Regions from separate parts of the Homo sapiens genome. Here region 1 is linked to region 2. The links come from fine-mapping of genetic effects on gene expression. A gene starts in region 2. The other region holds a variant in brackets. All regions are shown on one strand. Distances are from middle to middle. Region 1 has its middle 88 kb from the start of LINC00954. Region 2 holds the start of TTC32 (tetratricopeptide repeat domain 32).

Region 1 (5,379 bases), 120 kb before region 2:
AACTGAATTTCTTTCGGGAAGAGAATTCATCCTAAGGCAAGACTCAGCAATGGAGACTTAGATATGAAATTTCCACATCTTAGCAAAGGAGTGATTCTGAATGTACTCTGGCTCTGATCCTCAGATCTCTTCCCCATCTAGTCCTACAGATTTATGTCTGTTGTCTTTAAACTTTTTAAGACAAGCTGGTAACTGGAAAGGGCACAGGCCAGCCTTCAGTTTCAGGCTAGGAGGGCCCCTGCGCATCAGTGCTGCAGCTAACAAGGACCACAGTTCCTGATGAGAGGAGTCAGGTAGCAGGAGTGACCACGGGAGACTGTGGAGCCCACAGAAGATGACAACAGAGTCCAAAGCCATGTTCAGATGGCATGCCAGGACCCCATGGTGGGAGGGAAACTCAGTGATGGGGAGGCAGTTCCTGGAAGAAACAGAAGCACAAAGTGGCTACCAGACATGCTCAGGAGCACACAAGAGACATCCAGGGGAATCCAGAAATATTCAGTGGAAACTTTGCAAGGGAGTCAAGACCCTATAAACAGATGGGAAGGTTAGTAAAATTCTGATTATTATTATTAATATGAATTTATCCATATGCACAAGTTAGAAAATTGATAGAATCTCAAGTCATAATAGAAAAAGCATGGTTGATGGACTTACTCTTTTGACAGCCTACACGGGCCTTCTGTGGACTTACTTTCCTGATACAAAGATGGGAATTGCTGTTTGAAAACAGGTGAGTACAGGCTTAGCCACTTCTCCATAAGCCACTGGGAGTGAGCCCTTGACCCCTGAATCATTTGGGTAATTCAGCATCTGGGCTGCAGGTGAAGAGGGACTTTGGTGAGAGCACCTAGATGCCATTTCCATCACAGGGTACTAAAGGGGTCTTTAGGGGTCTGTGTGGGCTAGAGACCCAGCACCTTCCTGCTGAGCAATGGTAAGTTATTTGTGATCACTGTCTCCCGAGCCATCATCCTCAACCTTCAGCTCCTCCTTCCCCTGCCCACAAAATCTTGGGATATGAGAGAAGGATCATGTTGATCACAGAATGGTAGCAGAGCACCATTCATTCATTCAATCATTCACTATTTAGTAAATATGTCCCACATGTCAGGCACTAACCAGGCTCCAACTCGCACTAATGAACAATACAGTTGTGCTCCCTGCTCTCAGGGAGCTTACAGTCTAGTGGGGCAGACAGGCTTTAAACAAGGAGGCACAAAAGAACCACAAAGTGTGATCGGGATTTCAAAGGAAAAGAACGGGTCTCTATAGGAGAGGACAACAACAGAAAAACTGCTCAGGATTAGGGTGTCATGGAAGCCCCTTGCAGAAATGCTACTTATCCTGAGATGTGAAGACAAGTAGGGTTGGTGTGGGGGAGAGCGTGGCTCAAGGCAAAAAGACCTTAAAGCCAAAAGGAGGATCCTGCCCCTGAAAGGAGCCGTGGAACAAAGCATCATTTGCAAAGAGAAGAGCAGCAAGAGAGGGGGTCAAAGAGGAGTCTGGACCACCAGAATGAAGCCTTGGAGGCCATAGCAAGGGCTGCACATTTTGTCCTCGTGCAAAGGGAAGCCAAAAAGGGACTCTACACAGAGAAGTTACATGACAATTTATTTATGTAACCATCAGTCTGGCTGCTTGGGGACGGTAGGTTGGATGGGGCTCTAAAATAGAATCAAGGAGATCAGTAAGTTGCAGAGAAGTTCGAGAGAGAGATGATGGCAGCTAGGCTAAGGTAGGGACCATAGTAAAGAAATGGATAAGTTTGAAAATATTTGAAGATAGCATCAACAGAATTGGTGATGAATGAGTATGAGGACAACCAAGGGGGAAGCAGGGAGGATGATGCCTCAGTTTTCCAGCGGAGTAGCTGGGCAATTAGAGATGCCATTTATTGAGACTGAGACTGAGGTGGAGCAGGTTTGAGAGAGAATAGCAAGTTCTTCCTTTGGAGCCTCTTAAGTTTGAGCCTGTGAGACTTCGAAGTGGAGATGCTAAGAAGGCAACTGTCATGCGAGTTTCAAATTCAGAAAATGGAAGAATTTAGGAGTTGCTGGCACATAGTTGGACCCTGGGGCATGGGACGCCTGTTCAAACTTTTGAGGTATTTGCCCAGTTCACAATCACCCAACCCCACAGCAACGCCTGCAGGTAGGAAGGCACAGCGCCACTGCTCTCAGCCCACACCTTTTCACTTTTGTCACCCTCTCCTTAAAGGCCTCCATTATTCCTTGTTACCCAGAAGATAAAGTCCAAATATCTTAGCCTGCAATTCAAGGCCTTCTGGGATCTGGCCTCCACCTTCCTTATCTCCCTATTGCCTTACATGTGTCTCTGCACCAGCAAACTGGCCTCTTGACTGTTCCTGACACACCAATCCCTTCCAGCCCGCACACCTTTGCTCACAGGGGCCCTTACCTGGGCTTCCCTCCTCCCTATTCTACAATCAAATACTACTCAGGGCAAAGAGGATTGGAAGTGCTGATCACAAACACAAGATATGGGATGAGCTTCAGTCTAGAGGAGGTTCCAGCAAAGGACAGGGCATCACACCCTGGGCCACCTCCGTGAGCACAGAAAGGATTCAAGGCAACATGACTCTCTTTACCCATCTGCTAAATGGAGCTGAATCAGGCTAGTTTTTCTAGGCAAAAAACAGGTCACAAAATGTCCAATTTTAAGATTATTCTCA[A/G]TGTCTCTTTGCCAGGTTACCCTTATCTGAGCAAACAGAATTCATTTCCAAAATCAACTCTCCATAAATTGTATTTGGGAGAAACCCTTACATAACTTTAGATATAATTAAGGGGAAAACAGAAAATGGGGGTGGGTGGGCAAAACGGTATGGAGAAGCTGATTGTACCCATAGATTGAAAGGATTCTATTCATAGATTAAAAGCTGGCTTTTGGCCTTATTTAAAAAAAAAAATTCTTCCCATTAGGGTGCTTGAGATGCCTAGAGGTAGGGTCGGAGATAAATCTGGTACTTACCATGACAGGCTGTGGAAGGAGGATGCCAGCTGGCCCTATAGACAGATTCTGCTTCATGGCTTTAGGACCAGTAGTTGGGGAGCCCAAGGCAATGCCCATGGCAACAGATCACCTGTGCATTTAGGCAGTAGCTTTTCGTCCTTGTCTTTGGTGCTCACTGCCAGCTGGCATTACCTTCATGGGCTCTTCTTTCTGATGGGGACTGGAATGGAGGAGAGGGCTTCCCACAGGATAAAGTACTCTCTGCCTACCTCTCCAACTTCATATAGACCACTCTCTCCCTGGCCCCCAGAGCTCCAGCTGTTTAAATCTCTCAGTTTCTTGAACCCACCATGCCTGTTCTTGTCCAGGCACTTTTGCTCTGCTGTTCCCACTGCTGCAAAACACTCTGCCCCTTTTCTGGGCTCCCTGGTGATATGCTAGCCTTTCGTGACCTCCTGGATTAGGGTAGGGGTCCTCTTCAGTTCTCTGGCCTCACCCTACACCCTCACACCCTGCTTCTCACTCCTCCAGGCTGCTGACCTTGCCACACCTCAGGCTTATAGAGGGAAGACCTGTGTCTGCCTGGGGCACAGTGGCCTCCGTGGTGCCTAGACACGGTGATGCTTCCTGCATGTTTACTGATAAAGATGTGAAGGAGAGTGCAAACTGCACTCAGCTCTTCTCTCATTCTAAAGAGCCACAGGAAAAGGTCAAGGCTCTGAGATTAACCGGGTGAGCCTCAGAGGTCATTGGATATGTCAAGATCGAGAAGTAGAGGATTCTCACATGAGAAATGAGAGTCATGGAAGTTAGCTGCAAAACTGTGCAAACTTTTTGTACTAGCAGATTCAGTCTTCCCATCCAGAATGGAGGTGTCTTTGTGGTGGACTGTCTCTTCCTGCTAGTAACTCTCCCAGGGTATAGTAATGATATGGTTTGGCTGCGTCCCCACCCAAATCTTATCTTGAATTGTATTCCCATAATTCCCACATGTTGTGGGAGGGACCCAATGGGAGATAATTTGAATCATGGGGGCAGTTTCCCCCATATTGTTCTTGTGGTAGTGAATAAGTCTCACGAGATCTGATGGGTTTATCTGCGCTTTCTGCTTTTGCATCCTCCTCATTTTCTCTTGCTGCTGCCATGTAAGAAGTGCCTTTTGCCCCCCATCCCGCCATGATTCTGAGGCCTCCCCAGCCATGTGGAACTGTAAGTCCAATTAAACCTCTTTTTCTTTCCAGTCTCTAGTATGTCTTTATCAGAAGACATAAACAGACTAATACAGTAAATTGGTACCAGTAGAGTGGGGTGTGGCTGAAAAGATATCTGAAAATGTGGAAGCAACTTTGGAACTGAGTAACAGGCAGAGACTGGAAAAGTTTGGAGGGCTCAGAAGAAGACGTGAAAATGTGGGAAAGTTTTAAACTTCCTAGAGACTTGTTGAATGGCTTTGACAAAAATGCTGATAGTGATATGAACAATAAGGTCCAGGCTGAGGGGGTCTCAGATGGAGATGAGGAACTTCTTGGGAACTGTTAGCAAAGAGACTGATGGCATTTTTGCCCCTGCCCTAGAGATCTGTGGAACTTTGAACTTGAGAGAGATAATTTAGGGTACCTGGCAGAAGAAATTTCTAAGCAGTAAAGCATTCAAGAGATGACTTGGGTGCTGTTAAGAGCATTCAATTTTAAAAGGGAAACAGAGCATAAAAGTTTGGAAAATTTGCATCCTGACAATGCGATAGAAAAGAAAAATCCATTTTCTGAGGAGAGATTCAAGCCTGCTGCAGAAATTTGCTTAACGAGGAGCCCAATATTAATCCCCAAAACAATGGGGAAACTGTCTCCAGGGCATGTCAGAGGTCTTCAAGGCAGCCCCTCCCATCACAGGCACAGAGGCCTAGAAGAAAATAGTTTCCTGGGCCGGGCCCAGGGTCCCTTTGCTGTGTGCAGCTTAAGGACTTGGTTCCCTGTGTCACAGCTGCTCCAGCCATGGCTGAAAGGGGCCAACATAGAGCTCGGGCCATGACTTCAGAGGGTACAAGCCCCAAGCCTTGGCAGCTTCCAAGTGATGTCGAGCCTGCCAGTGCACAGAAGTAAAGAATTGGTGTTAGGGAACCTCTGCCAAGATTTCACAGGATGTATGAAAATACCTGGATGTCCAGGAAGAAGTTTGCTGCAGGGGTAGGGCTCTCATGGAGAACCTCTGCCAGGGCAGTGCAGGAGGGAAATGTGGGGTTGGAGCCCCCACACAGAGTCCTTACTGAGGCACCACCTAGTGGAGCTGTGAGAAGAGGACTACCATCCTCCAGACTCCAGAATGGTAGATCCACCTATAGCTTGCACCACGTGCCCAAAAAAGCCACAGACACTCAACACCAGCTCATAAAAGAAGCTGGGAGGGAGG
Region 2 (5,379 bases):
AAAATGTTAGACTTAGAATTAGATCTCATTAAATCAAATTCTAAAATCGTTTTCATGTGGAAATTTTGTTTCATATTTTAAAGAAATGGACTAACAGTTGAAGCCGAAATTTTCTGTAATATTAAAATTTTTGTAATGATAGTATTTATTATAATGGAATTCATTCAAGTTACCTAACCCAAATGTGAATTTTTAGGATTTGCTAACTTTCGCAAAAAAAAATATTTTTTATATATATATAAAGTGTGTGTATATATATTTTTTATATATAAAGTGTGTGTATATATATACACACACACTTTGGAAATTAGGTTTATGACTAAAGCTATACTTTAGATATTAAAAGAAAACGTCACAAACCATTCAGAATGAAAGGCATTCAAAAATTGCAAATATTGTTTCAAAATGATTTAGTGACCCAATACTTAGAAAATAAATGTAAGCTCCAAAAGATAAATTGAAGGGAAAAAGTTGAAATGACAGAATTCAGTTTCAATCCTTGAGTTCCTAGAATTTTATCAAAAGCTTATTTTACAGATGAAAAACTGAGGCTGAGACATTAGCCATGTGGCAGTGCCAAGACTGGAATTCAGGCATGATGAACTCCCTTCTACTGCGCTATGACAAACTGTCTTTCCTGTGCTGGTAAGGCATAGCTATTATATATGCTACAGACACTTGTGTTCTTAGGCTGAGAGGTGCAAAGAAGGAAGAATAACAAGACTAGACAGCAACAGCATACCTGATGCTGATAAATACTTTTTAAAATCTACTAGGTAAGTCTACTCTTAGAGCTTGAAACATGAATAGTTTCGCTTTCTATGTTTACTTATCTTTTTTATGGGGGAGGTGCACTGAGGAAAGTAGATGGTATCATCTTATTGCCTGTTCAGAAACTTCTATTATTATTCTTGTGTGTTATTGAAATGAGAAGGCAATTTTCTTTCTGGTTTAATTCCATGTAGCGTAACAAACAGGGTAAGAATCAAGTCCTTAGTGTTTAGTTAAGCCTCATACAAAAGACAAGCTGGCATCCTGTCCAGAAAACTCAAATCCACAACAGACAACTCACAACTATTCAAAAAGCTGTTCAACCAACCCCTCTGTTCTTTTCTCATCCTGATCCACTCCATACCATCAACAAGCCCAGTCGAGGCAAGACTTGGAGTAAAAACAAATGCTACACATCCAGGCACAAGCCGAAAAGATGCTTTGGGCAAGCAGACAGTAACAGGTGAAGCCGCTCACATCACAAAGAGAAAGTCAGCGAATCGTTATGTGCTTCCTGGTGAAAGTACACACACCCACCTAAAAAGTATTCTTGCCATGATATTGAATCTGAATTCAATTGGATCAAACCTCAAGGTTTAACCACCAATTCACAGCAATATGAGACAGATGACCACATTAAACGACAGAAGAGATTCAGTCAGCAAGTCCAAAACACGGAAATTCAAAGGACACAAGAATCGGTTTCCTCAACAAATAAAGAGGGGAAGGTGGAGAAGAGACTTAAAAAGACTTGATGTGTATCCTGACTTGAACTAACTGCGAAAAGGGAACCAAAGAACAAAACACCTTATTAGTCGATCAGAATGGTTCCAACACTGACGACTTGATATTAAGTAACTATGTGATGATGACATGGTGGTTCCTTCTGAAACATCCATGGATGAATACAATAGGTAAACTGATAATGCTTAAGCCAAGTGATAAACACCTAGACGTTCGTTATGCTCTCTTCCACATATTTAAACGTTTTTCACAAGTGAAAAACACCACCAAGAGCCTGCGCCGTGACACTGAGATGGGAGTCGCGGTACTGTGGCCCTACGCAGCCGTGACCCCTTCCCTTCCCAGGTCGCGGATTTCCCGCCAGCTAAAATCACGAGTGGAAAATTCCTATCTGTCCTAAGTCTCTGGGTGCGAATGAGGAACGTGGAAGGAGAGACGGCGGGGTGAGAGGCGGCGGCCCGCGCCCGAGGATCGCGCAGAGGGCTTGGTTCCCGGAAATCTCTCCGCACCGTCGCGGCAGCTGGCTCCTCACGGGTGGGCTTCTCCCCGCGTTCTCCGCCGCCCTCGTCCTAGGCCTCGCCTAGGCCTTTCTAGAAAGACGAACGTCCGCCCGCTCAGTCCTAGTGCTGGGTTATGACAAGCGCCGACCGTGAGCTCCAGAGGCAAAGATAGGAGCCCAAACAACCCCAACGTCGCCTCCACCCGGGGTCGCCGCGGCCCCAGGTCTCGCGATAGTTACCTCCCGGGACTCTCGTCGCTGGAGGCCGCGCAAGCGCACCGGCGAATGTAAGCGGAGTACAGTGCCTCGGCCTCCGCGTACTCTCCATTGTTGAAATGAGCCTGGGCGAGTGTTAGGGTTGCGTGGCTTTCTTGCCGCTGTCCTTCCATAGCAGCCAAGGCCTAGTTTTCGGTGTAGAATGGGGGTTGACCTCCGAGCGGTTAGAGGTGGCACCACAAAGCCACTTCCACACCCTGGAATCTACCTTGACAGCCAACCTTGGCGCTAGGTTTGTGCCTTATGGGGATCCGTCGTCTCGCGAGATAACGGTTCCGCTGCTGGCGGGGCGTTTGCAGTGGCCCTTGTGAACTATGTTTCTGCCGTTACCAGTGTTGGACCCGCCTTCCTCTTTTCCTAGAAAAGGCGCAGATGCGTGGTCGCAAACTGATTTCCAAGTCCGTTGTCTGATGCTGCGAGACACTATCCGTTTGTTACAGCGAATTGGGGGCCGATGACGCTGGAGGTGGAAGAAGCCGCGGTTCTGTTTCTTAATGGCGAATTAGCCTGCGGACGTCCTGTCATTCCCTTGCCTTTTAGCGTCCCAACTTAGCAAAACTCCGCGTTTAGGGTGTTCTGAGTAGGCTTTGTCTACCCTGAAACGCTTTGTGTCGACATTCCACCAGGTCTGTTCCACGGTCCAAACTTCTCTACCTTTTTTGACCCTCTAGAATTGTGTTACGATTAGTAGTATATTGTGTCGAGAGTCTGGGATCTTTGATGTTAGTTATATTCCCTGGCTGTTTATGCCAAAGGGAAATCCAAATAGTAATTTATTACGTACATTACGTATAATTCAAATTAAAATTTTGTAAGAACAGTTGCCAACCACGCTACCCTACATGCCTGCTGTGTATCTTCTCGGCGTCCCTCGATTCTGTTTTGCTTCCCAAAGTACTTGAGCCCTTTCCGTCATAAAAAGTAAAGATGAAAAATATATTTGGAGCATGATACTTACATGCGGAAGTCTTAACAGGACATAAATTGTGTGCTTTTGGCTGCTTTCATTAGATTTTTAATTTTTTCCTTTTACCACCACTGAAAAAAATACAAATACAGTGGATTAAGGTTAAATTAAAAAGCACTAGTAGAAATTAAAAGATTGCAAGACTACAAAAAAATAAACTGGCATTTCTGGTGTAAGCAAATGGACAGCTCAATAGAACAAAAGCCCAGAAACATACCTCAAATAGGCTGTATTTTGTAAAAGACATGTAACATATATGGGGAAAGGACAGATTATTCAAATGAGTGCTATTGGGAGGATTAGTTAACCATTTGGGGAAAAATACATTTAAGCATTTAAGCTCCCAATTGACATAATATTCATTCCAGGTGAATTAAAAGATTAAATAAATAAGATAAAAAGCTTTTTTTTTTCAGTTCCCATTTATTTTTGCCTCTTGGAGCAATGTCATCTTTTCAATATGAAAAAAACAAAACAAAAAACAAATCTGAAGTACAGGATAGAACAAAACCAAGTGTGTTGGGGGAAGCAACAGCAAAGGGAAGACAAGATGTTGCAAAAAAAAAAATGGAGGGGGGATTCCCCTCTCCTCTGGGGAATGACTCAAACACTGATGTGGCAGCGTACACTATTCTACATAAAGCCAGGGATGTTAATCCTTTTGGGGGATAAGAAAAAGTGGAGATGGCCAGGCTCTGTGGCTCATGCCTGTAATCCCAGCACTTTGGGAGGCCTAGGCGGGCAGATCACCTGAGGACAGGAGTTTGATAACAGCCTGGCCAACATGGCAAAACCCCGTCTCTACTAAAAATGCAAAAAATTAGCTGGGCGTGGTGGCGGGTGCCTGTAATCCCAGCTACTCATGAGGCTGAGGCACAAGAATCCCTTCTGGGTGGAAGTGGTTGGCAGTGAGCTAATTTTTGTATTTTTTGTGGTGATGGGTTTCCCCATGTTGTCCAGGCTGATCTCCAACTCCTGGGTTCAAGACATCTGCCCACCTCAGCCTCCCAAAGTGCTAGGACTACAGGCATGAGCCACCGCACCTGACTAGAAGTTTTGCTTTGTTCTGTTCAAGGAATAACAGGAATATTTATGTGTCTAAAAACCAGTGATCTAAGAGGAAAATAGCAGGATATGTAATGGAAATTGGGGATTTGGGAAGGGGGTTTCTAAATAGGAGTAAGATTCTTAACCTTTTTTGTGCTATGGCACCTTTACAAGTGTGGTGAAGCCTATGTCGTTTCAATGTTTTCAAGTGTTTTTAAAACATAGGATTACAAAGGAAAGGAATTATATTAAAAAACAGTTGGAATATTAACAGATTTATTAAAAAGTAAAACATTTATTAACATTAAATATCAAGAACAAATGGCAAACACAAAACTAGCAGAGGAAGAAAATAATAAAAGATCAAAACACAGATAAAACAAAAATGGAATCAACAAAACCAAAAGTTGGTTCTTAAAAAGATTAAAAAAGTTAATAAAACTTGAGCTAAATTGACTACGAAAAAGGAAAAGACTCAGATTACTAAAATCAGAAATGAAAATGGGAACATTACCATCAATTCTACAGAAATAAAGAGGATTATAAGAGAGTACTATGAACAATTGTATGCTGAAAAATGGGAGTAACTACATGAAATGAGCAAATGCCTAGAAACAAAAAACCTACGAAGATTGTATCATGAAGAAATAGAAAATATGAATAGACGTGTGTATTAGTCTGTTCTCACACTGCTAATAAAGACGTACCCAAGACTGGGTAATTTTTTTGTTTTTAAGAAAAAAGAGGTTTAATGGACTCACAGTTCCACGTGGATGGGGAGGCCTTATAATCATGGCAGAAGGCAAACAGCACGTCTTACATGGCAGCAGGCAAGAGAGAATGAGAGAACAGTGAAGGGGGAAATCCCTTATAAAACCATAAGATTTTGTGAGACTTAGTCACTACCATGAGAACAGTATGGGGGAAACTGCCCCCATGATTCAGTTTTTTCTCCCACCGGCTCCCTCCCACAACATGTGGGAATTATGGGAGCTACAATTCAAGATGAGATTTGGGTGAGGACACACACAAACCATATCAACCTGTAACTTGTAAGGAGATTCAATCAGTAATC

The links. PIP is the estimated chance that this variant, and not a neighbour inherited with it, causes the effect.
Region 1: its variant is the best candidate, but not a certain one, in a credible set for the expression of TTC32 in lymphoblastoid cells after a statin (CAP, PIP 0.75).

What each region holds. Positions count from the first base shown.
Region 1 is chr2:19,778,032-19,783,410 of GRCh38, forward strand. No RefSeq gene overlaps it. Among named protein-coding and RNA genes, the nearest start is that of LINC00954, 88 kb to the right of the region's middle. The variant A/G (reference allele first, on the strand shown) is at 2,696.
Region 2 is chr2:19,899,452-19,904,830 of GRCh38, forward strand. It overlaps TTC32 (tetratricopeptide repeat domain 32), which reads right to left and starts at 2,532. Exons shown (of 3, transcript NM_001008237.3): 1 at 2,255-2,532. The coding sequence starts at 2,403. RefSeq lists enhancers at 1,493-2,374, 1,625-1,814, 1,955-2,014, 2,095-2,194, 2,375-3,255 and 1 more.